7 separate regions of the Homo sapiens genome follow, and all the other regions are reported to be linked to region 6. The links are microRNA targets in miRTarBase. Many come from high-throughput screens and were not tested one by one. Region 6 holds a microRNA gene; each other region holds the end of a gene's coding sequence. Distances are between the middles of the regions.
The links. Region 6 holds the annotated microRNA hsa-miR-186-5p (CAAAGAAUUCUCCUUUUGGGCU, at 1,606-1,627, opposite strand). A microRNA usually pairs through its seed, bases 2 to 8, with sites in the 3' UTR of a target mRNA and lowers its output. Matches are read on the target gene's strand: a 7mer-m8 pairs with bases 2 to 8, a 7mer-A1 pairs with bases 2 to 7 and ends in A, and an 8mer does both.

Region 1: miRTarBase lists CD164 as a target of hsa-miR-186-5p. Seed matches in the 3' UTR shown: 7mer-A1 at 2,813-2,819.
Region 2: miRTarBase lists MRFAP1 as a target of hsa-miR-186-5p. The part of its 3' UTR that is shown has no 7-base or 8-base seed match.
Region 3: the mRNA of NID1 is a reported target of hsa-miR-186-5p. Seed matches in the 3' UTR shown: 7mer-A1 at 1,597-1,603.
Region 4: the mRNA of GOLGA4 is a reported target of hsa-miR-186-5p. The part of its 3' UTR that is shown has no 7-base or 8-base seed match.
Region 5: the mRNA of PPRC1 is a reported target of hsa-miR-186-5p. The part of its 3' UTR that is shown has no 7-base or 8-base seed match.
Region 7: the mRNA of FBXO42 is a reported target of hsa-miR-186-5p. The part of its 3' UTR that is shown has no 7-base or 8-base seed match.

The regions. Positions count from the first base shown.
Region 1 is chr6:109,365,435-109,370,221 of GRCh38, reverse strand. It overlaps CD164 (CD164 molecule), which reads left to right. Exons shown (of 6, transcript NM_006016.6): 6 at 1,205-3,708. The coding sequence ends at 1,371. Among named protein-coding and RNA genes, the nearest start is that of CD164, 15 kb to the left of the region's middle.
Region 2 is chr4:6,640,963-6,643,962 of GRCh38, forward strand. It overlaps MRFAP1 (Morf4 family associated protein 1), which reads left to right. Exons shown (of 2, transcript NM_033296.3): 1 at 1-296; 2 at 768-1,767. The coding sequence ends at 284. Among named protein-coding and RNA genes, the nearest start is that of MRFAP1, 1.8 kb to the left of the region's middle. RefSeq lists a silencer at 691-760.
Region 3 is chr1:235,974,170-235,978,956 of GRCh38, reverse strand. It overlaps NID1 (nidogen 1), which reads left to right. Exons shown (of 20, transcript NM_002508.3): 20 at 969-3,127. The coding sequence ends at 1,090. Among named protein-coding and RNA genes, the nearest start is that of LINC02768, 4.1 kb to the right of the region's middle.
Region 4 is chr3:37,360,146-37,364,932 of GRCh38, reverse strand. GOLGA4 (golgin A4) reads right to left here. Exons shown (of 24, transcript NM_002078.5): 23 at 3,628-3,690. The coding sequence ends at 3,661. Among named protein-coding and RNA genes, the nearest start is that of APRG1, 19 kb to the left of the region's middle.
Region 5 is chr10:102,148,045-102,152,547 of GRCh38, reverse strand. PPRC1 (PPARG related coactivator 1) reads right to left here. Exons shown (of 14, transcript NM_015062.5): 10 at 4,027-4,176; 11 at 3,854-3,920; 12 at 3,610-3,731; 13 at 3,219-3,370; 14 at 2,215-2,622. The coding sequence ends at 2,519. It overlaps NOLC1 (nucleolar and coiled-body phosphoprotein 1), which reads right to left and starts at 159. Exons shown (of 13, transcript NM_004741.5): 1 at 18-159. The coding sequence starts at 137. RefSeq lists enhancers at 49-98, 269-568, 1-673.
Region 6 is chr1:71,066,076-71,070,862 of GRCh38, forward strand. It overlaps MIR186 (microRNA 186), which reads right to left and starts at 1,641; the gene lies at 1,556-1,641. It overlaps ZRANB2 (zinc finger RANBP2-type containing 2), which reads right to left. Exons shown (of 10, transcript NM_203350.3): 7 at 4,752-4,787; 8 at 3,201-3,287; 9 at 701-859. ZRANB2-AS1 (ZRANB2 antisense RNA 1) reads left to right here. Exons shown (of 3, transcript NR_038420.1): 3 at 691-1,109. RefSeq lists a silencer at 2,428-2,477.
Region 7 is chr1:16,246,900-16,251,686 of GRCh38, reverse strand. It overlaps FBXO42 (F-box protein 42), which reads left to right. Exons shown (of 10, transcript NM_018994.3): 10 at 1-4,787. The coding sequence ends at 1,017. Among named protein-coding and RNA genes, the nearest start is that of CPLANE2, 12 kb to the right of the region's middle.

The DNA.
Region 1 (4,787 bases), not on the chromosome of region 6:
CTCATTTTTAAATGTGTAATCACATTTGACGTGACACTTTAGAATTAAGTAATAATGTTTTTCCAAACATTTCAGTACAACTTGTATGTAAAATCTAATTTGTAACTTCTGATTACCGTTAGGGATTGGTTGTGTGCTGTATGAGAGAGCATGGCGATTTGAGGGAAGATAATATATCCGTCCTTTTCACTGAGAAAGGTCTAAAAAGCCAGAATCACTACCAGATGTGCACCTCACTTTCTTAACCATTTCTTAACATTGCTCAGTAATGTGAAAATTAGCTTGTTATTAAATGATGATTTGACATAATCTAATTTAATTCATAGTTAGGTTACGCCACAGGATACTGTAGGTACACAGGTTAGGAATCCTTTCCTCCCTCCATATTTTTAAAAAACTGATGCTAATGAATCTTCTACCTGCTTTTTGTGATTTCTTTTTCTTCATGCTTATGCCACCTTTTTCTCAGTTTCAGTGAAGCCATTCTGTCTTCACGAGAAGGAATACAAAACAGTTGTCATTAAAGTTACCAACTTGTACAGCCACCAGAACCAGTGTTCTTTGATAACTGTTACTTTTTTCTTAGATTATTTTAAATGGAAATCGCTTTTTCTGTTTCCTCTTGAAACATTTTACTGCCTGAAAAGAATTCAGATATTTGTTTTTTCCTTATTACTTGATAATACTTTCTCATGTGAAATTTGTTGGCAGGATATGCCTTTAAAAACAGTTATTTTACTTGTTGAAATTATAAATTGCATATTATTAAGATTATTTTTGTAACATGAAAAATTGCAACCAAATATTTTACCTTATACTAGTAAATTCAAAAGTCATGTGAATTCTCAGCACTATTGACGTTTACACTCACAATTAACTAAAAGTACATAGTCTGAAGAAATTGTTGCATATTTTAGAAGTGTTTGATACATTCCCAGGGCACAATTTATGTACTAGGAGAATTTTTCCCATTGTTTTTATATTTGTACTAGTACAGTAGCATTGACCACTTTGTATCCTTGGGTGGAATGAAAAATGGGATATGGTTGTCTTCCTCAATTAGGGATAAATTCTAGCTGTAAAGACTTGAGGAAATACTTTATAGAATTTAACACATGGCAAAATAGAGGCTCAGGTGCATCTTTAAATTACAATAGAGGACCATGAAACTTAGGATTGTTGTTTCTTTTGTCTTATCTAACAGGTACAACAAATAACACTGTGACTCCAACCTCACAACCTGTGCGAAAGTCTACCTTTGATGCAGCCAGTTTCATTGGAGGAATTGTCCTGGTCTTGGGTGTGCAGGCTGTAATTTTCTTTCTTTATAAATTCTGCAAATCTAAAGAACGAAATTACCACACTCTGTAAACAGACCCATTGAATTAATAAGGACTGGTGATTCATTTGTGTAACTCACTGAAGCCAAAATACTATCTTTTAAGATGTCCCACATGGAAGACGCTATTCCAGGATCTTTAAATTTCCATGGATGCATATAGGATGTTTGGGAGCATCATCCGTGAAGAAAAAATCAATTAAATCATTGTGTTCAACAGGAATATTTAAAATATTCTGCATGAATCCTGTGGCTGTCTTATTTTAAATAGCTGCTGCTGTGGGATTATATTTTTTTTCCTTAACATGCCAAATATAACTTTCTGAAAGTGATGGAAAATGTTGTCTTGTGCAGACAACATCATGGCTCTTGGCAGTTTAAATTTAGTAATTTTAATTTAGTGAACAGAATTGAGAAGAACGTGCCAAATGAGAATCAATTAGGTGGATTTTTGGCTGTCATTTCAAAAGTGGAATAAATTTATTAATTTAGTAGTACTAAATGGTATCCTTAGATTAAAATTTTGTGCTTGATAACAGCTGTTTTTTCTACATTAGAAATAAGATGCCACACAAGGAACTACATTCCAGATTTAAAGAAATGAAAGGATACCATTAGTGTGTATAACAGATTATTGTTCATACTTGTAAAGCATCTTATGTCATTGAGAATATAAAGAACAGTGCCTTAGAAGACAGTGAAAGGTAAGCTCTAGCTTAATGTCTATGATTTGTTCTTTGACATTAAGGAAGGTAAGGATTGGTCAGAGGATGTAACTTGATGTGAGCAGTAGTAAACCTGTTTTAGATATCATACTGTTAATATTTTATTGAAAATTTATTTCAGAGCGGAGAAACTTAAGCTAAAGTCTGTTATACAGAATTGAAAGCCTTCGTATCTTGAACCTCCCAACATTTTTCTTATGGCTGTTGAAAAGTATAGAGCTAAATTGATTTAATTACACTTTCCTTTGTACTTTAAAAAAAAGTATGCTAGCACTATTGTACCTTGAAAGGATTTCCACCAGACTGTCTTGAGTAGTGACTTCTTTGGTGAGGCAAGAAGGATATACATTATTTTAGAATCATTTACTATTTAAATGAGACAATCATATTATTTTAGAATCATTTATTTTAAATGAGACAATCATTTTAAGTTTTAAGATAACAGAAGTGACCAATGTAATTTCACAACACCTAAGGATTTTTTGGTTGATCAGGTTACTGTAGATTTTTACTGATTGTCCTGGATGAATAGACTGTGCTTTTTCTTTTTCTCTCCCTTCCTTCTTGGTTTCCCATAGTATAATAAGCATGCATACTTTAACTTCTATAGTTTTCTCCTTTAGAGGGTCGTCTTCAGTTTTAGAGGTTTACTTCTCCCTTGCCTTTGACTCATTGGACTAGTGCAGAGGCTTTAAGTAGTTTAAAATGGGCTTTTGCTTTTCTAGGTCATTAACGTTTTTTATTTAGTTTCTTTAGCCAATAGTGGCTGAGTTTCGCACTTGATTTTCAATATTTTATAGTAAGAAATGACAAACTGCTTTGTTTCATTTCATAAACAAACTCTGCATTTAGATAACTATTAAAGGTTGTTAAGATGAAGATTTACTGTTTCTTTGTTACTCGTTGGTACAGCTGTTTGTTTTACTTGCACATTTGTACATATACTTAATGTTTTCAAGTGCCTTAATTGTTTAAAATCTCTGGCTTCAAAGTTTCTTGGGGAAAGGTCGGTTTACCTCACATTTTTTGTTTCCATTAGTAATATTCTAGGTACCTCACAAAATGTATTATGGTGCCATGGCTGTTAGTTTTTAGTGAGTGCTGTAGGATTAATTCGAAAATAGGCAGAATTCCATTCCTCCCAAGGTGGCAAAAATTAGCTATACTGATGTAATTGTCATTTACCTGGGTATGAATTCCCTGACACACATTCATGTCAACATATGTAGCAAATTTTGTGAAAACATAACAATTTGAAGCTTCTGTAATTTTGAGCACTGCTCTAACAACAAGCATAATATAAAATTAGTTAGATTTTGCAAGTCTACAAATGAGCTCTTGCAACAGAACTCACAGCCTTTTTACTTTTTTCCCCTAACTTTAGCAATGTAGTATCTTGAGCCATTAATTTTTGGGTTTTTTTAAAATCCAGAAGGTATATAGAAACCTTTTCAGATTTTTCATCTGATTTGTTCTTGCAGATGTTCTTCTATCAAATACCTTATTTTACCTTACAGATATTTGTTGCACAGGCAGATACTGCTGTATTTAGACATTTCTATTTCAGTTCATTAAAAACTGCAAAACCAATCTGTATCATGTACCAAACTGACTTAAAATAAATCTACATGTTTATTGAATTAATAGTGTGTTACTGCGTTTTGCTTATAAAATTTAATGCTTAGTGGATTTATCTTAGTCCGCTTGGGGTGGGCTTTCTACTCATTTTATTGCACCTCTAGACCAGCCGATAGTAACTAAGGCACATGTTCATATCAATAGAAAGCAGAGCCTTGGAAGTAATAGGTGGAGGGAGGACTTGGTACACTTGTGGGAGTGATTTGCAAGTTGATCTTCCACAAATCAATAGAAATTATGCTGTAGTTTTCCAATAATTTTTGAGAGGAATACTATCTTGGTTTTATAATCTGAAAGCTAGTTTGTGACTTTCTGCCTTTTTAGTTCATATTGCATATAAAGTAAAAACCAAGAACTATTTGGTATAAATTACTATCAAGCCACATGCTGTGACTTTGAAGTGTGGTTCTTGTTATTTTGTGGGCAAAATTATGTTCTATTTTATATCAGTGGACTTGAACTAAGAATTTACTCCTCTGTAAGCCTTAAAACCTGTAAGGGTGGACTGAATAATTCACTTTAGAAATCATGAATTTTGGGTTTTGTATTAGCCTTAAATATAGTCACATTTGGTTTAAGTAATACAAAACTTGATGCTAAGCTTAGTGACTCTGGTAAACATTAGAAACAATTTTTTTTTTGAGATGGAGTCTCACTCTGTCGCCCAGGCTGGAGTGCAGTGGCGCGATCTCAGCTCACTGCAGCCTCCACCTCCCAGGTTCAAGCGATTCTCTTGCCTCAGCCTCCTGGGTGGCTGGGATTACAGGCACCCGCCACCATGGCCAGCTAATTTTTGTAATTTTTAATAGAGATGGGGTTTCGCCATGTTGGCCAGGCTGGTCTCGAACTCCTGGCCTCAGGTGATCCACATGTCTTGGCCTCCCAAAGTGCTGGGATTACAGGCATGAGCCACTGTGCCTGGCCTTGTCCAGTGTTTTTTAGTCATTCAAGAATCCAGCCTCATTTCATCCCAGCTGGAAGAAAAAGTTCAACATAGTGTTTATAATGTATTATTTTTAAAATTTTCAATTAGTACATAGATTTTCTTAAATATACTTCTTAGAAAAGAAATTGCATTTAAATAT
Region 2 (3,000 bases), not on the chromosome of region 6:
AGATGCGCGAGGACATCGCGTCGCTGACGCGCGAGCACGGGCGGGCGTACCTGCGGAACCGGAGCAAGCTGTGGGAGATGGACAATATGCTCATCCAGATCAAAACGCAGGTGGAGGCCTCGGAGGAGAGCGCCCTCAACCACCTCCAGAACCCGGGCGACGCGGCCGAGGGCCGGGCGGCCAAGAGGTGCGAGAAGGCCGAGGAGAAGGCCAAGGAGATTGCGAAGATGGCAGAGATGCTGGTGGAGCTGGTCCGGCGGATAGAGAAGAGCGAGTCGTCGTGAGCGCGGTCGGCGGTAAGTCGGGCACCCGCGCCAGGCCGAGGAGCGGCCCCAGCTTGGCCGCTCTTCGAGAGCGATGATTTCATCGAGATGCACCGGAATCGGGGGTGGGGCGGGAGAATAAAGGCGTGCTCGGGTCAGGGCCGATCTGGGCCCCGTCTTCGTGTTTTGTTTTTTGACGGTGGCGGCGTGGGATAATCAGAGTGGCCGGGTTTGGGCGTGATGCGTGTTCAGTGGAAGGGTCATAAATCTCAGAGTCGCCAAGGAAACAGAAACGGACAAGGTCCCGGGCCGTCCAGCAAGCGGGGGTGGAAATAGAGGATTTTCGGGGAAGACGTTGGACAAGTCAACGTTGCTAGAGACTGGAGTGAGTCAGGTGGTGGCCAGAAGAGGTGGCGTCCTGCACAGTGGCGTTCGTGAGGGTTTGGGGGTCGTTGTGCCTGGGATTAACCTCTCGATGATGAATTTCTTCCCATTGTGCTTTAGGTTTCCAGCCAATGGATTCTGGTCAACTGGTGGAGATTGGCTGACACCCTGGAGAAGCCGAAACCAGAGAGCCTTTTGTTTTCTCTTTTTTCCTGTCTATGCTCTGTCTCACTTAACACTACGTTTTCTGCTATGGTCTGTGGTTGATGACCTCAATATGAGTTTCGATTGTTAACGTGTTTTTGTTTGGGAAGTAATTTTGTTTGAAAATGCTCTCACATACAGGAATTAGGGCCTAGATTGTAAGCTCTTGCAGCAGTCACATTTGTTCCCGGGCTTTGGTGGTTATTTCTAAATTTTTGAGGTGCTTTGCTATTTCTTGTGTGACCTGATAGCTCCCTGGAACTTTGGGTCTGTGTGTGACACATGAGACTCACAGTTGGAGTTCTCCAGCTCTGGAGGTGCTGAAGGAGCTGCATTAATTCTGGAAGACGACTCCATGCAGCAACTACTGAAGAAAGGACCAGACTTCAACGGGGAGTGTGGATGGGCCGACCTGGCTGGGACTCGTGAATCTGGAGAAGAGCTGGAGAATGGATAGTATTGTCTGTATTTGGAGACTTTAATTTCTGTGTGAGACCAAAGGAGGAGAGATGTGTTTTGTTCAAAATTTAAATTTGTTGTGGTACACTATCTTATGTAACCTGTCTGGTGAGTTTGTTTGGACAACCTAACTCAGCTTTATTTGACATGGAACCTAAAATAGAAGATAAGATCTTGATATTCTGTACAAGTTGATGTAATACCCTGATGCGTTTTAGAGGACTTGGCATAAAATGAAAGATTGGCAAAGGCCCTTGAGGGGCTTGGGGATGACAGTATGGAACTGTCTGCATTGGACCCTAAACTGGACTAGAAGAGGCATCTTCAAGGTTCATACGTTGTCCAGCTGTAAGTTCATTTGAGTAGCAGACCTAACAAATATTTGAGGTCAGAACCCTACCATGTTAAAACAAACAAAAACTTACCATGTTAATAAAAGTATTCATTTGCTTGAAAAGACGAAAGACCTAAAAGGTTATTGAGAAATGTTAGTCCTTTAAGAATGAAATCTGCTGTCTCCCAGATGGTTCTCACTGTCAAATGGAGGGTGAACATCTTAACGGTTTCTGAGGCTCTTAGTCTCTAATCAAAGGGAAGCTTTCTCTCTCTGCTGTTGGGAACCGGGTGAGGAAGAAACACACTTGGTTCTTAGTGTGGGAAGAAACCACATGTAATCCTGTGGTCCAGGCCTCTGCCTTCAGAGAGCCAAAGCACCTTCAGTCTTTCCAATTGGAACATTGTTTTCTAGGCCTTGCACTGGGAATATAGCGATTACAGTTGCAGGGTGAGGGATGACATAGAGGAGATGTGATACCCCACCCTCCTTCCAGATTGAAGCCTTTCTGCCTCAGCTGCTAGAAGTGTTGCTGACAAACACCCTTCAGCTGGTTAGCCCTCTGGGCAGTGCCTTTTCAGAGGAGAGCTGCGTTAGCCAAAGTCATGCCCTTTTCCCTGGGTAGCCTACATCTAGTGAGTAATGGGCTGGAAATCTCAGGTCGCTATTTCTCTTACCCCAATTTGGGACAACTTTGAGGGACATGGTGGCTTCTGAGCTTGTGGGGTCTGCTGAGGCTTTTGTTAGGATTACATCACGCAGCCCACCTCCTCCCCCGTCCCAGCCTTGCATTCCTCCTCTTCCACAAGTGTTAATCCCTAAAAAACGTGCATCTAGTTTTCATCTTGGAGTCCACTTTCTGGGCAACCTAGTTGGTAGAAATCAAACAAAGCCATGTGTCCCTAGCACTAATAAAGATAGAATGTCCCAGGAGAACACTTGAGGGGGAGGTCTAGGAAAGCTTTCCAGAGCAAGTAACTCTTTCAGAGCTTGGCCTTGAAAGAGGAGCACAGCTTCCGAGGTCAGGAAGAGCAGGAGAGGCATGCTAGGCACAGGAAACAATGGAAGATGTTCAAGGTTTTCTGTGTGAGTTCCACACAGAGGAGGGAGAAGAAATGTATAGGACAGAATTATGAACTGGGAAACAACCACGAAAACTACATTTCGTACATTTGCCAAAACAAGAAATGTAACATTGGTACAACACTACCAACTAGACTTTTCTCTGCTTTCACCAGTTTCCCCACTAAGGCCCTTTTTCTGTTCTGGGATACTACATTGCATCGGGAAGTCGATTGTTTTCAATGAGTAAGATTTATAAATGACACGAAAGTGATCCTTCATCTCTCCCCAGCT
Region 3 (4,787 bases), 160 Mb from region 6:
CACATGGAGGCTCAGAGCCCACACTCTGGCTGCTACCCGTATGGCCACTAGTAGCCTTGATTATGCCGTAAGAGAGATCCAGTCCTTTGCATCCAGGGTCTTCATTAGCAGGTGAACCAGTTAAATAAACAGAAAATATTAGGTCATGAAGTTGTCAGGATGAGGAAAAGCATTGAGTTTTGGGCTGGATATAAAAGCATAGGGTCTTCAGGTTCCAAATAGTCAGGTTAGGATATTACAATGTTAGGATCTCTGCTCCTTTAAAAGTCCATCCATCTGGCCTAACAGCAATAACAATAATTAATAATAAGAATTGAAAACATATGTGTGGCACTTACTGTGAGCTATGAACTTTACATATATCAACTCACTTAGAGTTCTAAATACTTTGTATTTGTTAGTTCATGTAATCCTCATAGCAACCCTGTGAGGTAGGTACTATTATTATGTTCATTTCATAAATAAGCAAACTGAAGCAACTTGCTCCAAGTCACACAGCTCACAGGGGCAAGTCCAGGCAGCCTGGCCCTGGAGTCTATGCTATGCTGCCTCTTGAAGGCCTCTCCCCTCACCCACTTTCCTTCTCAGCTTCCCTCATCTTCTTCTGTCAGTGTGAAGCTAGGAGTGCAAGCTACATAAAAAGAACTTTGCACTTTAAAATTCCAATTCTATGTTATAATCAGAGCTGGAGAACTTCCCCCTGAGATCTGTTTAATAGCCTTAGTAGAAAATCTGCATAACCCCCAAGTTGGGAATCAGTGTTTGTGTCTGGTTTAATGCTGATAAAACAAACAATGGATCAGCTCAGCTGACTGCCTAGCACAGTGTCCCCATTCTCCTGAAGCCTTCCTAGCATGGCTTCAAGGAAACTAAAAGGGGGATCACACACAAGAAGGAGCCCACTATCTTAAATGGCTATGGAGTCAGATCAGAGAGAGGGCTATTGAACTGATTTCTGCCTTTTCCAGGCCATAACTACTGCTCAGTGAACAATGGCGGCTGCACCCACCTATGCTTGGCCACCCCAGGGAGCAGGACCTGCCGTTGCCCTGACAACACCTTGGGAGTTGACTGTATCGAACAGAAATGAAGACAAGAGTGCCTTATTTCCTTTCCAAGTATTTCACAGCAACACTCTACTTGAAGCAACTTGGTCCAGATTGAAAAGTGTCCTCTGGCTGAGTGGCCACTAGGCCCAGACCCAGCCCAGCCTGAGCCCCAACAACTTTTCCCTCACTGTTCCCCAAAACATGCACCCTGGACTTCTCTAATAGAAAAGTCTCCACCCCTACACAAGGACAGAACCCTCCACCCCTACCCCCAACCCTCAGACAGACTTATACACCCCTGAGTGAGGATTACATGCCCATCCCAGTGTCCTAGGACCTTTTCCCAATACTAGCCCCCCAGTGGTGAACAGAACCTCCCAAATTTGAGTTGCACCCTTCCCTGTGGCCTTATGAGCTCAGCCTCGCTTTGAGGTACCCACCGTCCTGTCAGCTCCTTGACCTATGAGCCGGGGCCTGACTAGGAAAAGTTGGGAGTTAAGGAGGAAATTAGCATTCCTTAATGTTTTGTTTTGGTGCTCTGAATTTCTTCTTTATTATAGTCCTATAGTTTTACTCCTCAGTTCCTCACCATCATCATCTTGTCTAAGACCCCCATTATAATATTCATGCGCTGCTTTTTCATCAAAACCTACCCTGTCCTAGAGATCTATGGGCATTTGGTGGATGATAATGAGCAGCCCCTCCCAGATAGAATGTCAATATTTGAGCAGTAGGATATTGGCATTTGTTAGTTAAAGGCTTAAATCAAAAGAATGTCCAATGGTAGGAATTTCAAGGTGTAGGTCAGATATTTGAGAATAGGGGATTTTTTTGATGTGCCTTAAATTATACCAAAGATTACTAATTATTCCTCTTTGCCCAAAATACTTGCATCCAAGGTTCTAGTCTCTGTTGCTGTGCTGGTCTTTAGCCCCACTGCTTGCACTGATGTCCCTCCTTTTCACGGAGACCTATCTGAGGTACAGGATGGGGCTGGCACCAGATGATGTCCCACCACAGTCCCTCACCTCCGGCCTCCACATGACAGAACCAATTTACACTCAACCATGACCTCACCCCTCCTTGGTTTCTCCCTCGATCTGTGGCCCTTTTTGGATGTATTCTTATCTAACAACACAATCCGGAAAGACTGAATTGAATATTTATACTAATGGTTCATATCCTTTATTGCTCAATGATCTAATTAAAGGGATCATTGCCACATTTCATGTTTATATTTCTACAATTTGTTTAGAAAACATCTCCTGACCATATCAGTAGCTCGTGTTATCTTTTTATCAACTGCTTCCCAGAGTCCTAAAACAATAGAAATTTTGGATTGAAAAGTTCAGCATAAGGAGTTTGAGTCAGTAAAGGATGGGATAAAGGAGTCGAGATGATTCAATGAAAAGTATCACAAAAAAGAGATTGATCAACAAGAGAAATAAAAAAGCCCAAGAGGAAGTGGTAGGGGAAGGAATTTAAGAACAGCAATAAGTAAAACTCTTAAGTAACTCCAAAAAGAAAATGGTACATTTTGCCAAAGACCACTTATACTTGAGAACATGGAAGAATTTGCCTGATACTCTCTTTGGGGAAAAGAGTCTCTCCTCTTTTCCTCAAACCCCAGTACACTCAGCCTCTCTGCCCCACCTTCTCCTGACTTTGTCCTCACTTGCTTCTGCAGTACATTGGAACCTGAATTGAAAGAAAGTCTTCCTTGAATAATTGGAGTTTGTCTTGAGAGGCAAATATAGCCCCAAGAATCACAAGATTCGAGGACCATGTAGGTCTTTTACGTAGCCCAAATCCATAAATTAGTCTCACTTTTTGTATTTATCGTTTCATATTAAACCCTCTATATCAAATGTTCATCATGATTTTGTATGATTTTTATAACTATTTTATTCATTTTATTAGATTTATTCTAAAATTTTTTAATGGTAAATTCTTAAACTGTGGAAACCACTGAAGGTGCTTATTAACTGTTCTCCCAGATTTGTACAAGTATTGGATGATTCCTTGAGTTTACAGCTGTACAAATAGTGTGGAAAATAAACTTTTTTTAAAAAAGAAAATCTTCCTCTATCTTTTCTGAATGAAGAGATTTAATGTTGGGAGGCTGATTCATGATAGACAGACAGACAGCCACTTAATAATCTGCAAAACCTGTGGAGCCCAGAAACTCTTATCCCAGTATTATGAGAGCTAGTATGTTTCTCAACCACAAAAAACCTTAGGGGTTGTAATTTACCTAAAAATGAGTGCAGTGTCTCACACCTGTAATCCCAACACTTTAGGAGGCCAAGGTGGGTGGATCACTTGAGGCCAGGAGTTTGAGACCAGTTTGGGCAATACAGGGAGACTCCATCTCTGCAAAACATCAAAAAAAAAAATTAGCTGGGCATGGTGGCACACACCTGTAGTCCCAACTACTCAGGAGGCTGAGGTGGGAGGATTGTTTGAATCCGGGAGGCCAAGGCTGCAGTGAGCTATGATCGTGCCACTGCACTCCAACCTGGGCAACAGAGTGAGACCCTATCTCAAAAACTTAAAAAAAAAATAAAAAATAAATTATATTATAGATTTCAAGCCACCCTTTTGGATATTGTTTTCATTGAGAAAATATATTCTACAAGCAGGCAATAGAAAAAGTTTTCTGATTCAGCTCTGGAGATAAGCTATGTTTTAATTCTCTTTTTACCTCCAGAAGGAAGAAAGATGCTTTCCTGGCACTGGCTATGGAGTGAGACCCCTGGTCTGTTCTAAGCTGCCACCAACAGGCAGTGCCACTCATGCTGGCCCCTGGGTGGGATGAGAATGGCCTCTGAGTTGAACAGAGTGAAGGGGGCTCAGAAGTTGCAGGAATGAGGTGTCCAGAGCTCAGTTGTTGCAGAGAAGGGAATTGGCACCATCAGTGGAGCCAGTATACAGCCTGCCAGTGTGAATTTCTTGAAAGAGACAACTTACATATGTTAGGGCTAAAACTTCCAGTGTTTTATGCTGGCCATAAAATCTGGTTACTCAAAGACGATATCAAGCTCCATGGTGGAGATAAGAAGCTCCTGGAATCTATCCCTCCATTAAAACAATTGAACTGGCAAGAGCTGTCTGATGCAACTATTTTGGAATTCAGGATCTTAGGGAACACTTGCAGCACCCAGGAGAAAGCTTGATGAGGAGGCTGGCAAGTTTTGGTCAATTTCAGCTCTTTACTTAGTGGTGACTACCACCCACCTTGATCAGCCCCAGGGCAGTCAGTTGTGGGGACAGCAGCTCAGGTACTTAGTGTGGCTTGCTGGAGCCAGGTTGGACAATAAAGACCCAGTTTTCCAAAAACCAAGGTTGTGGGTTCTGATTACTGATTGCTGCTTTTGATCCTTGAGGGGCTAGCATATAGGGAAAAATTTTCATGATACTGGGTTTGTCAAACATTTCTTGGACATATCAAAAGCACCAGCAACGAAAGAAAAAAACAGGTAAGCTGGACTTCATCAAAATTAACATTTTTGCATCAAAGGATACTATCAAGAGAGTAAAAAGACAACCCATGGAATGGGAGAAAATATTTGCAAACTCTATATGTGATAAGGAATTAATATTCAGAATATAACTACATTTCAACAACAAAAGCAAACAATTTAAAAATGAGTAAAGGATTTGAATAAACATTTATATGAAGAAGATATACAAATGGCCAATAAGCATATGAAAAGATGCTCAATATCATTAGTCATT
Region 4 (4,787 bases), not on the chromosome of region 6:
GTGACACCTTGTCTCAAAAAATAAATTAATTAGAAATGCTGGCTGGGCATGGTGGCTTATGCCTATAATCCCAGCACTTTTGGGAGACCAGGGTCAGAGGACTGCTTGAGCCCAGGAGTTCAAGACCAGCCTGGGCAACATGGCAAGACCCTGTATCTACAAACTTTTTTTTAAAAAAAATAGCTAGGTGTGGTGGCATGTGTCTGTGGTCCCAGCTACTCAGAAGGCTGAGGCGGGAGGATTCCTTGAGCCCAGGAGGTCAAGGCTGCAGTGAACTGTGTTCACGCCACTGCACTCTAGGCTGGTGTGACCATGCTGGGGGGCAAAAAAAAAAAAAAAAGCTATGACATAGCCAAAGTCTTCCTCATAATGTTTCTCAAATGAAAATGCTGGCCAGGAGCAGTGGCTCACGCCTGTAATCCCAGCACTATGGGAGGCCAAGGCAGGTGGATCACCTGAGGTCAGGAGTTCGAGACCAGCCTGGCCAACATGGTGAAACCCGGTCTCTACTAAAAATACAAAAAATAAGCTGGGTGTGGTGGCGGGCACCTGTAACCCCAGCTACTCAGGAGGCTGAGGCAGGAGAATCACTTGAGCCTGGGAGGTGGAGGTTGCAGTGAGCCGAGATTGCGCCACTGCACTCTAGCCTGGGCAACAAGAGTGAAACTCCGTCTCAAATATAAAAAAAAGAAAAGGAAAAGAAAATGCTAAAACCAGTAGTCACATCAAGATATGAGTTTAAAATCCCATAAAAATAAATTACCAAGTAAGATTAATAGAGGCAAACTTTCCATATATATTAAGTGGATAGGGGGAGTTTTAGTCTTCTGAATTTGTAAATGAACAAATATTTCACTACTCATAATGTACTACTAATAGTATATTATTTATAAAACTAGTTCAATAATCATGTTGGTCCTAGGAACCTAAAGAAGACACCAACAAGATCTTCTGTTATACGTAAATTCCTTGTCAGTTTTTATTTTGAAACCGTAGCTTGATCTGTTGTGGGAAACAAAATTCAAGATCAGTTCAACAATGCTGCATCATTAAAAACAAAAAAGCTAGACGTTTTCTAGTTTAAAAAAGACTAGGAAAATATGACCACTAAATGCAATGTGAAATCTCAAGTGGATCCTGGATTCTAAAAAATTATGGGAGACATTATTTGGAAAACTGTAAAAAACTGAGTATTATGTACTATATATTAGTATTAGCTAATATTAAACTTCCTGAGTGTAATAACTGTACTGTATGTAGAAAAATGTCCTTGTTCTTAAAGATACATGCTAAAGTACTTAGTTTATGTTTACAATTGTCAAATGCTTGCAAGCATGTCGGCAAGTAATTGCCAAATGTTACAAATGGGGAATAATATAAATGGAGAGAGAACAAGAGTGACAGCAAGTCAGAAAATCTGGCCAAACATTACTAGGTGAAGGGTATATGGGTGTTCATTGTACTATTTTTGCAAATCTTATGTCTGAAATGTTTCAAACTAAAAGTTGAGGAGACAATCAATTAATCAATTAATAGAAATGCTGCACAATATACATTTCCAGTGATAATTGATATTCAGCTGCAATAATAACAAGTACAATGCAGTATTATTTTAAAAGGAAAACATTAAGACTTAATGGGTTAGCTATAGAATTTACAGTTTTTCAATGTTCACATTTATTATCAAAGTAACCTAATAAAACCATGCATTGTACTGCCAGCCATTGTAATGTGGATGACAAAAATAAGACAGTTCTGGATAATCGCTAAGGCAAATCAAATAATATATATTAAAATCAAAAGGAGGCTCAAATGAAGGCACAGAAGATTTTTAAAGATAAAAGCTTAGAGGGCCAGGCACAGTGGCTCACGCCTGTAATCCCAGCACTTTGGGAGGCCAAGGTGGGCAGATCATGAGGTCAGGAGATCGAGACTATCCTGAATAACACGGTGAAACCCTGTCTCTACTAAAAATACAAAAAATTAGCTGGGCATGGTGGCGGGTACCTGTAGTCCCAGCTACTCAGGAGGCTGAGGGAGGAGAATGGTGTGAACCCAGGAGGCGGGGCTTGCAGTGAGCCAAAAACACGCCACTGCACTCTAGCCTGGGTGACAGAGCGAGACTCCGTCTCAAAAAAAAAAAAAAAAAAAAGCTTAGAGGCTGAGGTAGGAAGATCGCTTGAGCCCAGGAGTTCGAGACCAGCCTATGCAAGACCATCACTACAAAATAAAATAAAATAAAAAAATAGGTGCCTTAGAGTCCCAGTTATTTGGGAGGCTGAGGTGGGAGGATCCCTTGAGCCCAGGAGCTGACACAGGAATGAACTATGATCACACTACTGCCCTCCAGCCAGGGTGATAAAGGCTTTACTTATTTTTTAAAAAAAAATAAATAAGGCCGGGCGCGGCTCACGCCTGTAATCCCAGCACTTTGGGAGGCCGAGGCGGGCGGATCACGAGGTCAGGAGATCGAGACCATCCTGGCTAAAACGGTGAAACCCCGTCTCTACTAAAAAAAAATACAAAAAATTAGCCGGGCGTAGTGGCGGGCGCCTGTAGTCCCAGCTACTTGGGAGGCTGAGGCAGGAGAATGGCGTGAACCCGGGAGGCGGAGCTTGCAGTGAGCCGAGATCCCGCCACTGCACTCCAGCCTGGGCGACAGAGCGAGACTCCGTCTCAAAAAAAAAAAAAATAATAAATAAATAAATAAATAAATAAATAAATAAATAAATAAAAGCTTAAAAGAACGGAGAAATGTTGTATCTTGCCATTTTAAACCTTGATACTATTATTAGCTGGATATTAACAATCACTGAGAGTATTTATTTTAATTATAGTGAAGCCCTACTAATTGTGATCTGTTTTTGATTTTGTGAAAATTCTAGCAAAGGCTGAGGTAAAGATGTATGGTACATTTTCAGAGGGTGCTAAATCAACCTAATAGCATGAAAAATACATAGAGATGAGGGGAGAGGGTTTAAATGATGAAGACAGTCAACTGCGTTGAAACATTTCATATGCCTGCATTTCACTGTAATATGTTAATCAGGAAGAATCACATTCAATTAAAGTAGGCTGCCTAACGGTCTCCTCAGGACAAATGTGTTGTCTTGTGTTAAACTGTCTGATTTCAGGAAGTAATGAAGCTATATTTTAAAATTGATCTTACTAGTTTTCATTATTTCTGACTGGCCTTGACTCAGGCTTTACAGGATTTTGAATTCTCACGGAATATACCACTTCATTTTTATCTAGAAAATGATTTTTCATTTCTCTCTCACAATCATAATTTCAAAGATCATTCTTGGAAAATTAAAAACAAAAGGGAAAATAAGTTACATAAATACTTTTTTGGATTCTTTAACAAAATTTCAAAGAGCAATTTTCAAACTTTCAATTACTCTTTAAAGAAATGAAATTTCCTAAAATTATATAACTCTTACTGGTGGTAGTAATTTTTAACTATTATCGATCCATATAACAGAATGAACAGAAAATACTTATATTAACCCATAGCATAATCATATATTTATTAAACAAGAGCAAAAGAATTCCAGCAAAATGGTTAGTATCAGGCAACACATTTGATTTTTGCACAAAAGACACAAGACATTGTTCTTCACTCACCACATGTTAACTAAGCACAGACTGATGGTTTACTCAGAAGATACCACTGCGAGGTGAAGTAAACTACAAAGCCAGGAAGAAAAAAAGCTTATTGGGTTAGTTTTAAGACTTAATATAACACATAGATTGTATGTGTATATGAAGTTCATAGGATTACAGACTGTACTTAAATTTTTCTCAAATCTCCCCAAATCAAGGGTGTACAGGCAAGGAATAAGGAATCTGTAATACCTCCCCCCATATCCTAGGTAAATATAATATTATGTAGCTGAGATTTTACTTGCAACTTTCATTTGAAGACTTAAACAACGTAATGAAAGGTGTACTGCATATTTTAAGTACATATTTACCAGCTGAATTACGGGGCAATTATTTGCTTTACAAAAGGATCTCTTTCATAATTCCATGAAAGTACACATTAAAATTTGATTTACATAATCTCAATTTACCCTAAAAAGTTTTCGGGAAAATGATGATGAATTTGAAGAGCCATGTGTCTATATGTTGAATTCTCATTCCTAATGTGTCAATTTGATCACTGAATAACTCTCTTGTAATTCAACAATGTATCAGAAATGGTTTCAGGAATGGTGACCCAAACTGAAATTTCAATTTAAGGAAACTCAATCTCAAATATAGTTTTTACTGTGACAAACCTTAAATAAATTCTATGCCCCATTTTAAGATGGTCATTGTCCAAAATCATTAATTACCTTCACGGTGATTTAAAATGGCAGCATTAAAAACAAAGATTGCTTATAAAATCTGAGTCTATTCTTGGATAGTGTGGCCAACCTCAGAAACATCATTTTATTTATCTTTCATATTTAAAGTTAGTAAAAAGCAGCAAAACCAAAAGACAAGCTAGAAAATAATATGTGCAACACACACAACACAATGAGGTTAATATCCTCTCTGGCAGAAGTATACAAAATCCATGTATATGGATGTTCCCTATGTCTATGCTTGTAAAGTACTGAAAATCTTGAAAACATAAGTAAATGGAATGAGGAGGAAACTGGTGAACTAAACTGTAGGACATCCATATAATCATACAATCAGCCATTGAAAAGAATGAGACCAATTTGTAATAAGGTGGAATAATATAAAAATATATTAAGTGAAAAAAGCAAGCCATTGCATACTCTCATTTTTATAAA
Region 5 (4,503 bases), not on the chromosome of region 6:
CCAAGCCCGGAACTCACAGCTCCTGTCGCTTTGGCGAACTTATTGGCCACCTCTGAGAGTTGGTTATCGCGCAGGAAGCCGAGCACGAGGGGATACAGGTCGCTGGGAACCACGCGGCGAATGCCGGCGTCCGCCATCCTCCAGGCAATACGCGTCACTACCGTTGTCGACGCAGCACGACTCAGGAACCCAACAGGGGCAGTGGGCGGGCCTGTGTTACGTCATTGCGCCGCGCGGGCGCATAACGGAAAGGGTGGGCTCCACAGGGCAGTCCCACCTTCACCTCAGAGGTAGGGTAGACGGGAAATCTATAAACTCTTTCCGGTCCCACGCGTATCGCCATCTTGGTTAAGGGCGGAGCCCACCGGCCGCCAGCTTGTGGAGGCGGAGCTCTGACGTCAGGGATCACGCCCTCGGCGTGGCGGGAAAACTCGGGACTTCCCGCGCAGTCTTTCTGGGGGAGGTACCTTTTCTCAGAGCAGCGGTTTCCCGCGCCCCTGCTGGGACTCGGATTCCAGAGTAATGAGTGGACAAGCGGGCTCGAACAGTTGTTCTACAAGATCTCCCAACCGCCCCCATGGCGTACTGGCACGGCCAATGGATTCTCGCCCTTCATCTTCACTGCCTCCAATACCCAGGGAGGCCCTTTCTGATACCATCCCAGCCTCCAGACTCCTGCCTCTGCTGCAGAAGATCCTTCGGGTTATCCGTCGTGAGGGTGGGAGGTGTTGATTTCCCAAGCTGCCCCTCCCATCTCCCTTATATTCCGCCTTAGGTCAGCTCCATGAAGAGGAAAGGTGTCATGCACCAAACCTGAATCACACACAGCAACAATCTATTCAAGCTGAAGAGATTGTTGAAAATAACCCTTCTTCCTCCGGGATCAGAGTTCACACTCTGCCTTTGTCATGAGTAACTCCAGTATCAATGCCTTTGTCATGAGTAACTCCAGTATCAATGCTCAGACCTACCAAGTTAATTCCAAGTTCTGCCACATTCCAGATATTAGCAGTTAGCAATCCCTTCAATCCTACCCACTACCCCTTGGCTACCTCCCACTAATGCCGCTCAGGAAAGATAAGGATCCTCATGGGAACACACCCCCCTCTCCTATATAAAATTGGCCAGGCATAGTGGCTCACAACTGTTATCTCAACACTTTGGAAGGCCTAGGTGGGAGGATCCCTTGAGCCCAGGAGTTAAGAGGCCAGCCTGGACAACACAGTGAAACCCCCCTATCTCTACAAAAAATTTTTAAAATTAGCCAGGTGTAGTGGCATGCACCTGTGGTCCCAGCTACTTGGGAGGCTGGGGCAGGAGGATCAACTGAGCCAGGGAGGTCAAAGCTGCAATGAGCTATGATCCTGCCACTGCAATCCAGCCTGGGCCACAGAGTGAGATCCTATCTCAAAAATCAAAAACAAAGCTGGGCACGGTGGTTCATGCCTGTAATCTCAGCACTTTGGGAGGCTAAGGTGGGTGGATCACCTGAGGTCAGGAGTTCAAGAACAGCCCTGGCCAACATGGTGAAACCCTGTCTCTACTAAAAATACAAAAAAAATTAGCCAGGCATGGTGGCGGGTGCCTGTAATCCCAGCTACTCAGGAAGCTGAGGCAGGAGAATCACTTGAACCCGGGAGGCAGAGGTTGCAGTAAGCCAAAATCGTGCCACTGCACTCCAGCCTGGGAGACAGAACAAGACTCCATCTCCAAAACAAAACAAAAAAATTCAAAAACAGAAACAAAAAACTCCACAGTTCCCTCTTCCCCACGCTTCCTGTTCTACCCACATGCATGCATTATTTAAAACATTTGAGCACCTGCTGTGCCATGCAGTGTGCTCAAGCTATTATAAAATGATGAACATAACTGACATGATGAATGTATACACCTGTCGCAGTTTAGAAAACCTTTCTTTGGAACAAGTGTGAGCTTCTCTAGGTCCTTGTTATCAAAATCCCTTCCTGGACCAGTATCATCATCCCATTGTCAGAATCTACATTCTAAAAAGATCGCTAGATGATTCAAATTCCCTTTAAAGTTGAGAAGCACTGTCCTAAATGACTCATTTTAGACAATACATCTGAGGAACCAAGGTTCAAATCCAGTGGGATTTTTGCACCTGACCAGGGAGAGGCATGTCCCTGGACCATGTTCAGATAGGAAAAGTGAATACATTTGGCATTAGCACCATATAAAGACGCACAACAGCAGTTGGGAGTTCTCTCTAGTTGATGTTTATTAGTCTGCATAGTGACTTATGTTCCAAACACTGGGGATCCCCTCAGCCCCTCCTATCTTACATAGGAATGCAAGTTAACTTGTTTCAATACCTGTTATAAAAAAACAAATACCCCTTTTAAAAAATCTGATTCAACATATTTTTTATTTCACTTTTTTCCATTTCTTTATAAAACAGTCATCTCACTAGCAGCTCTCTCCCCTAGAGTAGGGGAAGGGGGTGGAGGAGGTTGGGCACCTCCAAAGGAGAAAAAGGATAGCAGGGAAGGGCCCAAGGTTACCTCCTGAGGTTCTTCTGGGCCTGTTTCAACAATGTGTCAAAGTCAAGAGAATCAAATTTGCTCTTTACAGGTGCTGGGTCAAAGTCTTCCCGGTTGGAGTCTATAAAGGTAAAGACAAACTTCAAGGTCTCTGACCACACTTCCCAACCACAGGGTCTGCAAATGGCTAGCTATCTCCCATCCCAAAAACGGATGGAGTGAAAACTGCTCTAATTTTAAGTCAAAGAGATAGGAGAGTCCCCAGTCCCCATTTCTCCTCTCGTCCCACCCCTTGGGTCTTTTTTTTTTTTTTTTTTGAGACAGTCTCGTTCTGTAGCCCAGGCTGGAGTGCAGTGTTGTGATGTCAGCTCACTGCAACCTCCGCCTCCTGGGTTCAAGCAATTCTCCTGCCTCAGCTTCCCGAGTAGCTGGGATTACAGGTGCGTGCCACCACCTCTAGCTAATTTTTTCTATTTTTGGTAGAGATGGGGTTTCATCATGTTGGCCAGGCTGGTCTCGAACTCCTGACCTCGTGATTTGCCTGCCTCAGCCTCCCAAAGTGCTGGGATTACAGGCGTGAGCCACCATGCCCAGCCCCCTTGGGTTCTTTGTATGTCAAACTAAGGTAAGTCTGCCTAGCCCCACTCACAAAGGGTTAGGAACCCTTCTGGGGAGGGGATGAAGCATTCCAAAGCTTTAGGCCCTCCCTCCACTCACCAAGATCAGAATAGCTCCTCTTGCAGAACTGCCTTCGGCCCCCAAAGCAGAGATCAAAGGGCTGCTCATCTGCCTGCCGCAGCTTGTGGCCACTCTCAATGGCTGCAAATGCCTCCTCAGCATAGCGATAAGTGACGAAGCCGTAGTTGTCCCTAGTAGGAGGAGAGTGAGGCAGGGGCTGGAGTGGCTATATGGGCCCATGCCATAGAGGAGACACAGCATCCCAAGGTACAGAGGTGGTTCTTCTCATTCCCAGTGGCCAACCCTCTGACTGCAGAAATGAAGGTGCCCCATATTGCTCAGCACACCAGAGCAAGGAGGCAAGACAAAGAAACACCAAGGTAGATGAATGGGATAGAAAGAACATCCTGAGCCTGGGGCCCAAGCTTACCCTTGGACACGGAAGTGGATGGTGCACTCCTCAATCTCTCCAAAAACGGAGAACCTCTGTTTCAGCTCTGATCGAGTCATGCGGCCAGGTATCTTTCCAATGAAGACCACCCTTCTTTCTTCCTATGTTTGGAAATGAAAAAAAATCAACACACCATTAGCCAGGGCTACAGCTGCAGGCAGCTCTCTGAGCTCAAGGCTCAGGGGGTAAGCCCCATCCTCCCATGATCTGTTCCTCTACTCACTATTGCACGCTCCTTTTGTAGCACTCTTTGCCTTTGGTAATGGTCATGTGAACGATAAGAGCTGTACCTGACAAAAGAGGGTGTCATCAGCCCCCCAAACATAAGACAATTCAAGACTCAACTCTTAGGCACCTGCATCCCAGGTGCATGGCGCTCCCTGAACACATGCTCACCGCCGCCTCCTGTCACTTCTCCGGCGGGGGGATGGGGATCGTGAGCGGCTTCGAGAACTGGATGATGAGGATGAGGAAGACGAAGAGGAAGATGATGACGAAGAAGAGGAAGAGCATCTTCGAGAACGTCCAGAGGAACTACAGCTGGACCTGAAGGATAAGAGGGCATGCAGGAATGCTGGGAGTGGTTCAGGTATACTCTGCTTATCTCACCCAGGCCCCAGTCCTGCCTTTCTTTTAGGAAGCTCAGGACCAAAGACAAAGCAGAGTAGAAGAGGTCTAGAAGAACAATTTTCATTCAGAGATGAACAAACTGAGGCCCTTCATGGAACTTTAGGTGTACCTGGAATGTTGTGAAGTGTTTTGGAAGAGATCACATTTTCAATTGTGCACTTAAAAATTGAAAAATATTTAACAAATCAGAAAGAGGAAGAACAATAAATGGAGACTCAGGGAGAGGGGTGAGCCCTAGGTCTC
Region 6 (4,787 bases):
TGCAAAGACTACAAATAAAGCCATTAAAATGACTATATAATTGGGAACAAAGAGAAAATTAATGAAACTGAGTAATTAGCCTGTTGCAGAAAAGGCTGACAGATGACAGTTGCATTCTTCCAATATTAAAAGTGTCAGTACAGATAAAGTAACCTAATATAGGCCTTTCTCAAAAAAGATTTGGACTGCAAAATGAAAAATGTATTAGCTACAAGGAATAATTTCCTTATAGACAAAGGGCATGAAGCAATTTGCTGTGGAAATGCATTTACACATATTTAAATGAGGACAGATTCCCAATGATCTGAAAGTTAATTTTTTATTAGATGCTCTAGAATTCTTGACTATTAGTATTTAAAGAAGCCTAAGTATAAAAGTCAACTCATAAATTACTTCGACATACAGCTTCTGAATTGCAATCTCAAAAGACAGAAATAACCGAGAGTTGGCTATAAAAATTATAAATGGAACTAAAAATTTAAACAATAAAATGATCAAAGAATGGTTTGATCTACAATTCTAAACAACCTGATCAAAGTACAAAGGATAAGCAAAGTAATGTTTTTTTGAAGTTCAAAGTTGAAAAGTAGAAAGTCGGAACACAAGAGATAATAAAAATCTAACCCTTGACTAGGAAAGTTTACTTTATCTATTAAACACACTTAAGAACACCCATTCTTATTTCTACAGAAACCCAAACCTTTCGGGTGACCGTGATCTTGTTCGTCTTTTTTTGCGATCACCAGATGAAGAAGATCTAGAACGACTTCTCTTTCTGTTCCTCTCAGGAGAAGATGATGAACTTGAATAAGATCTTTTTCGTGGGGAAGAAGAGCCCCTGTGGGACCTGGAGCTGGATCTTCATTGATTGAGAAACAAATCAAACATTTCATTAAAAGAAGAAATAAGGAAGATTATTTAGTTATCAGATAGCTCCAAAAATAAACAGGATTTATAACAACTATGAAAATTTTATAAGGAAGAATACTTACTGCTTATTCAACAGAAGACTTCTGGATCAACCATGAAAACATTCTACTTAAACATTTTAATTTTGTCTCTTTAAAATTCTATCATGTGTAATTAAAACCCTGCTTACTATATCAAAATAGAATTTAAACTTTTTTTAAGGCTTTTCAAAGTATACACAAATATTATAGTATTATAAAATCAGCAGATAACTGCATTAACAGGACTTTACGTTTAGGAACTACATCCTTCCATTTGAGGATTAAAATATGTATCTTATATACCACTTCCTGAGGAAAATAAACATAATTCCATGTGGAATTATTCAACTCATTAAACTGTTATGGAAAAACCAGGTATATGGCACAGCAACAAAAGACTAGTAACTGTACTTAACTGCTAAATATTCAAGAAGAAATAAAAACTAACTTTAAGATGATTTATATTTACAATACTATTTTTATGAAAACCCACTACTTATGAAATATGAAGTGTTGACATTCACATGCTTCAGGTAGAAGTAAATGTGCAAATGTTTAAATACAAATTTTTTTTCTTCACTTGTATATTTTGGTTGAAGGAATTTAGCTCAAACTTCCCAAAAAATTCACCTTTGGGCTTAAAATAAAACCAGAAAGCCCAAAAGGAGAATTCTTTGGAAAGTTACAAGCAATGAAAAAATGTTTGGGAAGAATATGATGGGTGTTCTGTAAACCTTAATTATAATGGTTCCCAAAGGGAATACCAGAACTTAAGGATTTTTACCTATAAAGCGCTTAAATATTGTTACTAAATAATGGTAACAATAAAAAATAATTTGCTCTCTACTTCTATTTTTTTTTTTTTTTTTGAGACAGGATCTTGCTCTGTTCCCCAGGCTGTGGTGCAGTAGCATAAGCATGGCTCACTGCACCCTTAATCTCCAGGGCTCCAGTGATCCTTCCACCTCAGCCTATAAGAACACACCACCATGCCTGGCTGGTTGTTTTAATTTTTATTTTTAGTAGACGAGGTCTCACTATATTGCCCAGGCTGGTCTTGAACTCCTGGGCTCAAGCAGCCCGCCCACCTTGGCCTCCCAAGGTATTGGGATTACAGGCGTGAGCCACTGAGCCTGGCCTTGTTATCTATTTCTTATTGGCTTATAATGCAAGTGTGCACAACATTCTTTTCTCCTTAACATGATTATACTGTGGCAGCCCTTTAATGCTAAATTTGATTCAAAGCAGCAAATACTTTTACCAAAACAGCCACAGTTAGACTTCAATATGAATTTCCACAAATATGGAATTTCATTTTCTTATTTATTTTTTAGATGCCTTTAGGTCATAATAAATTAACTTAAAAACAAAGAGAGCATATTTTGACTAAACAAAGAAAAATTTCCTGCAAGAGCATCTTTCAAATTATGTTTCCCTCTACAGATGTGACTACATGCAACCTGAAACTTTAGAACACTGTTTACTACTTAAGACCACATCCTATCTCAACTAACCGACTATACTTCCTGATTTAGTTTTGAGTGTTTTGTGCTCTATAAATAATAGCGTGTGTAAAATTAGAAAGGAAAATGTATATACAGTACTCTAGTAACTTTATCTGATATAAATGGCAAATTTGTTTCTGAAAATATTGAAACAACTGCCGTGCAAAACAGGACCTGTTTTGAGGCAGGGTTATTTTTCTTCCTTTTAATAATGAAGAAAATTTTTCTTTTTATTTACATATGTAATTTTATTTGAACTACTATTAATTTTTTTTTTTTTTGAGACACTCCTCTGTCACCCAGGCTGGATTACAGTGCTGTGATCAAGGTTCACTACAACCTTGAACTCCTGGCCTCAAGTGATCCTCCCACCTCAGCTTCCCAAAGTGCTGGGATTATAGGCATGAATCACTGTGCCTGGCCATATATAATCTTAATATACTAGAGATGTGGCGATAAGACTTGGCTTCATCTTCCTACTTCATAACATCTTAGTGCCAAAATAATAAACGCTGCATATTGCAAAATAGCCACCTGATTTCAATCATGGGAATGTCTTGGCACACTGCTGGCAATGGAAACATTTCATGGTGAGAAAATTAAGCTGAGGCAAGTGCATTAGTTTTCTAATGCTAAAATAAAATCGACAAGTAGAAGCAAAATAAGGGGAAAAAAAGCAGCAACACCTTCTGCAGCCTTTAAATATTTTTCTCTCTGCTTTACAGAGAGATGCTACCTCATTCACCTTGATTTCGACCCACGAGATCTCGAACGTTCTCTGGAACTGGAACGAGATCTTGACTGCGAACTGGAAGAACTTCTTGAACGGGACCTGGAACAACATGGAACGATTTTTTTTTTCCAGGACCATTTAATTGAGCTTTGTGATATGAACACTGAAAGAAAGATATGTATTAGAGTTCATTTTCATATAAAAAGATAACTATACAAGATATATACTTTCAAAACATAGTATTTTAAATTAGATAAGATTTAGTAACAAAAGGTAATTAAAAAAATATCACTTTCCAGGTGATTAAATTACCCTAAAGCCACTCAACTATAAAACAAAACATTATCACTTTATTACAAAAACAATGAATACTTTGTTTACAAGTAACTAGAAGCTACCCAGAATACATCCAAGAAAACAGAATGTTGCGATTTATACTTAATTTCTCTAAAATGTCTCCATCATTTTCCTTTATAAATCCCCTTCTATTTTTGTTTCTAGTTAGTACAAAGTTTTGAATGTTGGCATGTGTGTATTTCATCCCTATATTTTTCTGTTTACTCAATGCTTAGAGAATTAAAGGGAAAATGTATAATTCTGTCATTGTTAGGTAATTATATTATTGGAAAATATGACACAAGGGAGACATGGTTCGTACAAATTTTAAAACTCACAAAATTCATTAATCTAATTTACAACTATAATTTGTCCCTTATAATAATACCCTGTAGAAAAAGATCACTATATTTTTACCAAAAAATTACTAGTTATAGCCCCACTTTGTTAAGCTTTCAGGCTTTGTAGTGCTCAATTAACATATATCTAATTGTTATACACTAATATCTAGTATTTTATTCCTAAATATGATTAAAATTCATTGCCCATGCCATCACTTAACTGTGATTAAGGTTTTTCAAGAGGACACTGTTAAATTTAAATCACTGCTTTCACTCACCTAAAATTTTATTTTTATTGTTAACTATAAAATCAGAGATTACATATTTTACATCAACAAACAATATTCAAGTACACCAAAAGAGTTTTAGTTTACGCCTGGACTTCTCAAAATTATGAGCATGAAGTCAACAGAACTAATATGGCTGAATTTGCTCCGTTATTCACAATACTGATATCAAAGCAAACTATTAAAAACATTATGTAATAAGCAATGATTTAATGCCTAGAAAATTTCTGTGCTAGCCTTTAACATCTTGAATGAAAATACAGATCTCCCCTTTACTTAATTTCTATATGTAAGCTATCTCTTTAGATTAATTAAATATAAGTGTATATAAAAATTTAATTCAGTTTTTAAGTCTATTTTAGTCAAAAGCATGAGGCTAAAATAGGTTAAGGAAGTTTCATGCTAAGACTTTACTTTTCTAAAAATACTGGACAACAACTGTATGGTACTAAGCTGAAAAATTATTTTAAAAGTTGATTTGAATTAAATTTTTAAAATAAAAAGGAAAGTTTATTTCGTCAAGAAAAACAAAATTTATAAATAAAAAAGTTAGATACTGACATTTTGACTGGTGTTACCCTTGACCTGTACCCGTTTACCTGGACCTAGACCTTGAACTTGAGGGGGAGGATGAG
Region 7 (4,787 bases), 55 Mb from region 6:
CCAGCTCTCGTTCCTGAAACCCGAGAGTACCGCTCTCAGTCTCCAGTAAGAAGCATGGATGAAGCTCCTTGTGTTAACGGCCGCTGGGGAACACTGAGACCCAGGGCTCAAAGGCAGACTCCTTCAGGTTCCCGGGAAGGGAGCCTTTCCCCAGCCAGAGGAGACGGCTCTCCTATCCTCAATGGTGGGAGTTTGTCTCCAGGAACGGCAGCTGTGGGTGGCTCTTCTTTGGACAGTCCTGTACAGGCCATATCTCCAAGTACTCCATCTGCTCCTGAAGGATACGACCTGAAAATAGGACTTTCTTTGGCCCCCCGACGAGGATCACTACCAGATCAGAAAGATCTGAGATTAGGATCCATAGATCTGAATTGGGATCTGAAACCCGCTTCCAGTAGTAATCCCATGGATGGCATGGACAATAGGACAGTTGGGGGAAGTATGAGACACCCTCCTGAACAGACAAATGGTGTGCATACCCCACCTCACGTGGCCAGTGCCCTTGCAGGGGCCGTCTCCCCAGGTGCCCTGCGTCGGAGTCTGGAAGCCATCAAAGCGATGTCCTCCAAAGGCCCCTCGGCCTCTGCAGCACTAAGTCCTCCTCTTGGGTCTTCTCCAGGCTCTCCTGGGAGCCAGAGTTTGAGCAGTGGAGAAACAGTGCCCATCCCTCGCCCAGGGCCTGCCCAAGGAGATGGACATTCCTTACCTCCCATTGCTCGCCGCCTGGGCCACCACCCTCCACAGTCCCTAAATGTTGGCAAACCCCTATACCAGAGTATGAACTGCAAGCCCATGCAGATGTACGTGCTGGACATTAAAGACACCAAGGAGAAGGGGCGGGTCAAATGGAAAGTATTTAATAGCAGTTCTGTGGTTGGACCTCCTGAAACCAGCCTGCATACCGTGGTACAAGGCAGGGGTGAACTCATCATATTTGGAGGACTCATGGACAAGAAACAGAATGTGAAGTACTATCCAAAAACAAACGCCTTGTACTTTGTACGAGCAAAGAGATAATGTGTTCTAAACCCCTTTCCTTTTCTGTGGCTTTTAATTTGGAATTTTCCAGTGTGTAAGCATTTGGACTGAGAATTGGGAAAACAAAATTACTCCCAGAAGCCAAAACTCTTTAATTCCCAACCGAAGTCACTCCAGGCTGGGATCAAATCTCCATTAAGAAAAAAAATTATATATAAATATATATATATATATTATATAGCCAACTCTGTTGACAAAAAAAGGGAGAGATTTCCATCCTGGTTCAGATAAAGTTGTTGCTGTGTTTTAACAGGGGCTGGGCTGCCTTTTTCTACCTTGCTGGTAACTAGACCAAGAAGTTAGAGAATAGACTAACATCAGTAACTTCCCAAAAGAAACTGAAGAGCCCCCTGTAAATCTTTATGTGGCCTTCTTGGAGTTAAAAAATGAAAGGGCATATGTAAGTTGCAAAGGTGGAGGGTTTTAGACTCTCATGCTTCAGGTGCTGTCGGGGTAAAAGTAACTGTTTTTCCCCTTCTCTTAAAACCACAGAGGACCTGTGACAGCTCTGCAGAAATGCCAGTGCCTGGCCCCCTCTTGCCTTTTATGGCTGAGGAAAGTTACCCAACAAAGGATTTTATTCCACATTTGTGTGCCGGGTCATTGTGAAATAATGTTTATGCAGCCAACATCTGACCGCCTAGTAGTGTCCATTGGTCTTTGGAGTGCTTCTTGTGTGTCTCAGAAAACATTTTGTGTCTGATTGTGGAAATTTCTGACAATCAATCATATTTGGTGGCAAGTTGCCAAAAAACATATTTATTCTCCTCTTTCTTCCCTTAGAACATGGTACTTGGAAACTGCCTTTTCCATTCACTTACAGGCTGCTTTTTTCTTCTACCTTTTTTCTTTTCTTTTTTTTTTTTCATATGTGGTGAAGTCCTAAAACCTGTCTGACTTTCTGTTTCTTTTACAAAGCTCAGGTGCCTACAGAAATCAGAAGCTGCTTAGAAATACTTGTGGAACCCTTTCCCTGGTGTCACTAGGGGGCCAGTAGGGAATTCTAAGATGCCAATATTGTGAGAAATCTTTGAAGCAAGCATCAAAAGATACTGTTTTTTCCCTATGGGCTTCTTTTTACTTCCAAAGCACATTGAGCACACTCATCCCATATTTGTAGAATGTGGAAATTGATTCTGGAAGGGAATTCCAATAACAGTTCTTTTTAGAAATGTTTTTTTCCTTGTGGTGACATATATTCCTCTTCCTGGCTATTGGCAGGTGATGGAGTTGAGAATCATGTACTTGACTTCTTGACGCATGGCTGACCTCAGAAACAGCTCCATCCTTTGCACTTGTCTTCTTCATGTGTCACCCAAATAGGGCTTGGGTTTTTACTTTCACTTCATTTCTGAGATTAAGGTGTAACCAAGTAGAGCATTTCTTTGCTTGATACAGAAAGTTACTAGTCTCAACCATGGCCTGGGCATAGGAGATGTCAAAATAAGTTTATTTCAAATGGCACCATTTAAATAGGGATTTTTGGTGATTTCTCATCAGTGGAAAGAGGATTTTTGTTTTGCCTTTGTTTTGTTTTGAAATTTAAATCCTAATTTCAAAACATCACCTTGCCACCCTGACACTCCTCTTTTTATTATTAGCGTTTCTCAGGCACAAAGCCTGCTGCAGCTGGCCCTGGGTCCTGGCTTTCAGCCAGCATCTGGCAGCCTAAGTGTACTGATAAGTGTGTTTTCTCCTGTTACATCATGCTGAATCCTTTCCCTTAGCCATTAGCTTTTATGATGTGGTCTTCGTAGGAAAGCCACCCTGGTGCCAAGCCTAGCTTGTGGGGAGGGGTATGTGTTCCAGAAACTGCTCTTTGTGTTCCCTTCAATGAGGAAACAACATGTGTCTACTTATGTGGCATCCAACTGCTTGGAGCTCCACACTTCCCTTTCGCGACTCAGGCTCTGGTGCTGTTGCCAATCCTTGCTTGGCAAAGACTGTTCGATCATGTGGGGTCCTTATTTACAAGGGAAAGCTGGGCCAGAAGGCTAGCAATTCAGGTGTTACCGCTATTGCTGTACCTTGTGTTAGGACATTGTGTTTGTGCATGGACTGTGCCTCCAAACTCAGTAGTTCCTATCTAAATATAAAGTATATTAGAAACCTGAAAGTACAGAATCTCAACCTTACAGTCTTTCCCTTAGTCCTGTGGCCTTCCTAAGCCAGCTGTTAACGTGTTGATTCCTTCCACTTCCCCCAAGTAGGCAGGCAACAGATATGTTGATTGTCTTAGAAAGTAATCTGGTTCCTCTGAACTCCATTGAATTCCAGTTTGACGCATACTGCCTGGAACCAGACTGTTTGCTTACAGCTTTTTAAGAAAAATCTGCCTTGTCTGCCCCCATTATGGTTGGTCTTGGTAGCTCCTGGGCACTGTGGGCGTGTACCATGGGAAAGTGATTCAACACAGTGAAGGTGATTGTCTCCTCAGGCCTCCTGAAGCCACCTGTGCGGTGGGACTTCACGTGTCTCGGCCAAGGCGAGCATTTCCACAATGCCGTGGATGCTGCAGTCAGGCCAGATTGAACCATGACCCCATTTTTCACATGATACCAATTTTGTCTTAAAATTCACTGAGAAAAATGAGACTAAATTTTTTTTAACCCTCAGGAGCACCTGAAGCAAATATTTATCCGTATTTATTGAAAATTCATTTTGTTTCTACTTGAAGCTTTAACCCCTTCCATTCCTGCAAGTGTGCCTTTTGAGAGCTCCCATGGCCTAGTGACTTCACTGGTCACCTTGTCCATCTTACTTAAGAATTTTAGTCTCTCCCTACCCTCTTGGACAGAGCTTCCTGTTCTCTTATTTCACAGGTTATACAGCAGAGCGGGTTTTGTGTTTTCATTCCTATTTCCACCCTTCATTTGGTTGGTGGACTCCACAACCTCACCCTACCCTACACTTTGGGAGCACAAATTTGGTGTTGAAACAAGCTTAAATTTCATTTTAGGGCATACTGGGCTTACTCTCCTCCCAGCTGTCTGTGGATTGATTTGATTTTAATGTTCGAGTTTTACAGCAACAGCTGAAAACCATGAACTATTCTAGGAACTGTGTTGGAACTCTTTAAAATAAAGAAAAGAGGAGGAGGAGGAGGAAGAAAGAAAACCAACTTAAGAAGCCTTGACTTTGGAGGACAGAAAGCCACCAGCCAATGGAGAACAAAGAGATGTTTCCCTTTCCTTTCTTTCACCTTGTCATTCTGGGTTTCCTTCTGCTTCACTCTTTCCTTCCCCCTTAAAAGTGGTATTCCTGGTTGGTCTGTCTGTCTGTCCTTGTCCTTGTGGTGATCCTGGCATGGTGATATGCTCCACTTTGCATTATCCATGGTCTCTTACCAGCGCACAAGTCAGTGGGGAGGATCTAACCACGCCTGGTGGTGAGGAAGCTGAATTTCCAGGCCTGCGTCCCATGTAGCCTCTCCATGAACTGCAGAAGGCATGTTCTGCATGGTTACCAGTAAGTGGCTCCCTCTCACCGTGTTCATTGTCAAATGAGAGCAAACTTTAGGTGTTGGCTCCATTGTACACTCTACTTGCTCTGCTCCCCTCCCTCCAACCAGGGTTCATGTCAGTGCACACCCCATGTGCCCTGGCGAAGCTGGTGCTGTGAGTGATGTTTCCCATACAACTCAGGGATGCCAGGTGGCTTACCCTGAGATAGTCATTTTGGGCACATAACAGTGTAGGAATGAAACATGGATTTCATTGATATTTAAATCTGTCAATTTCATTTTTTGT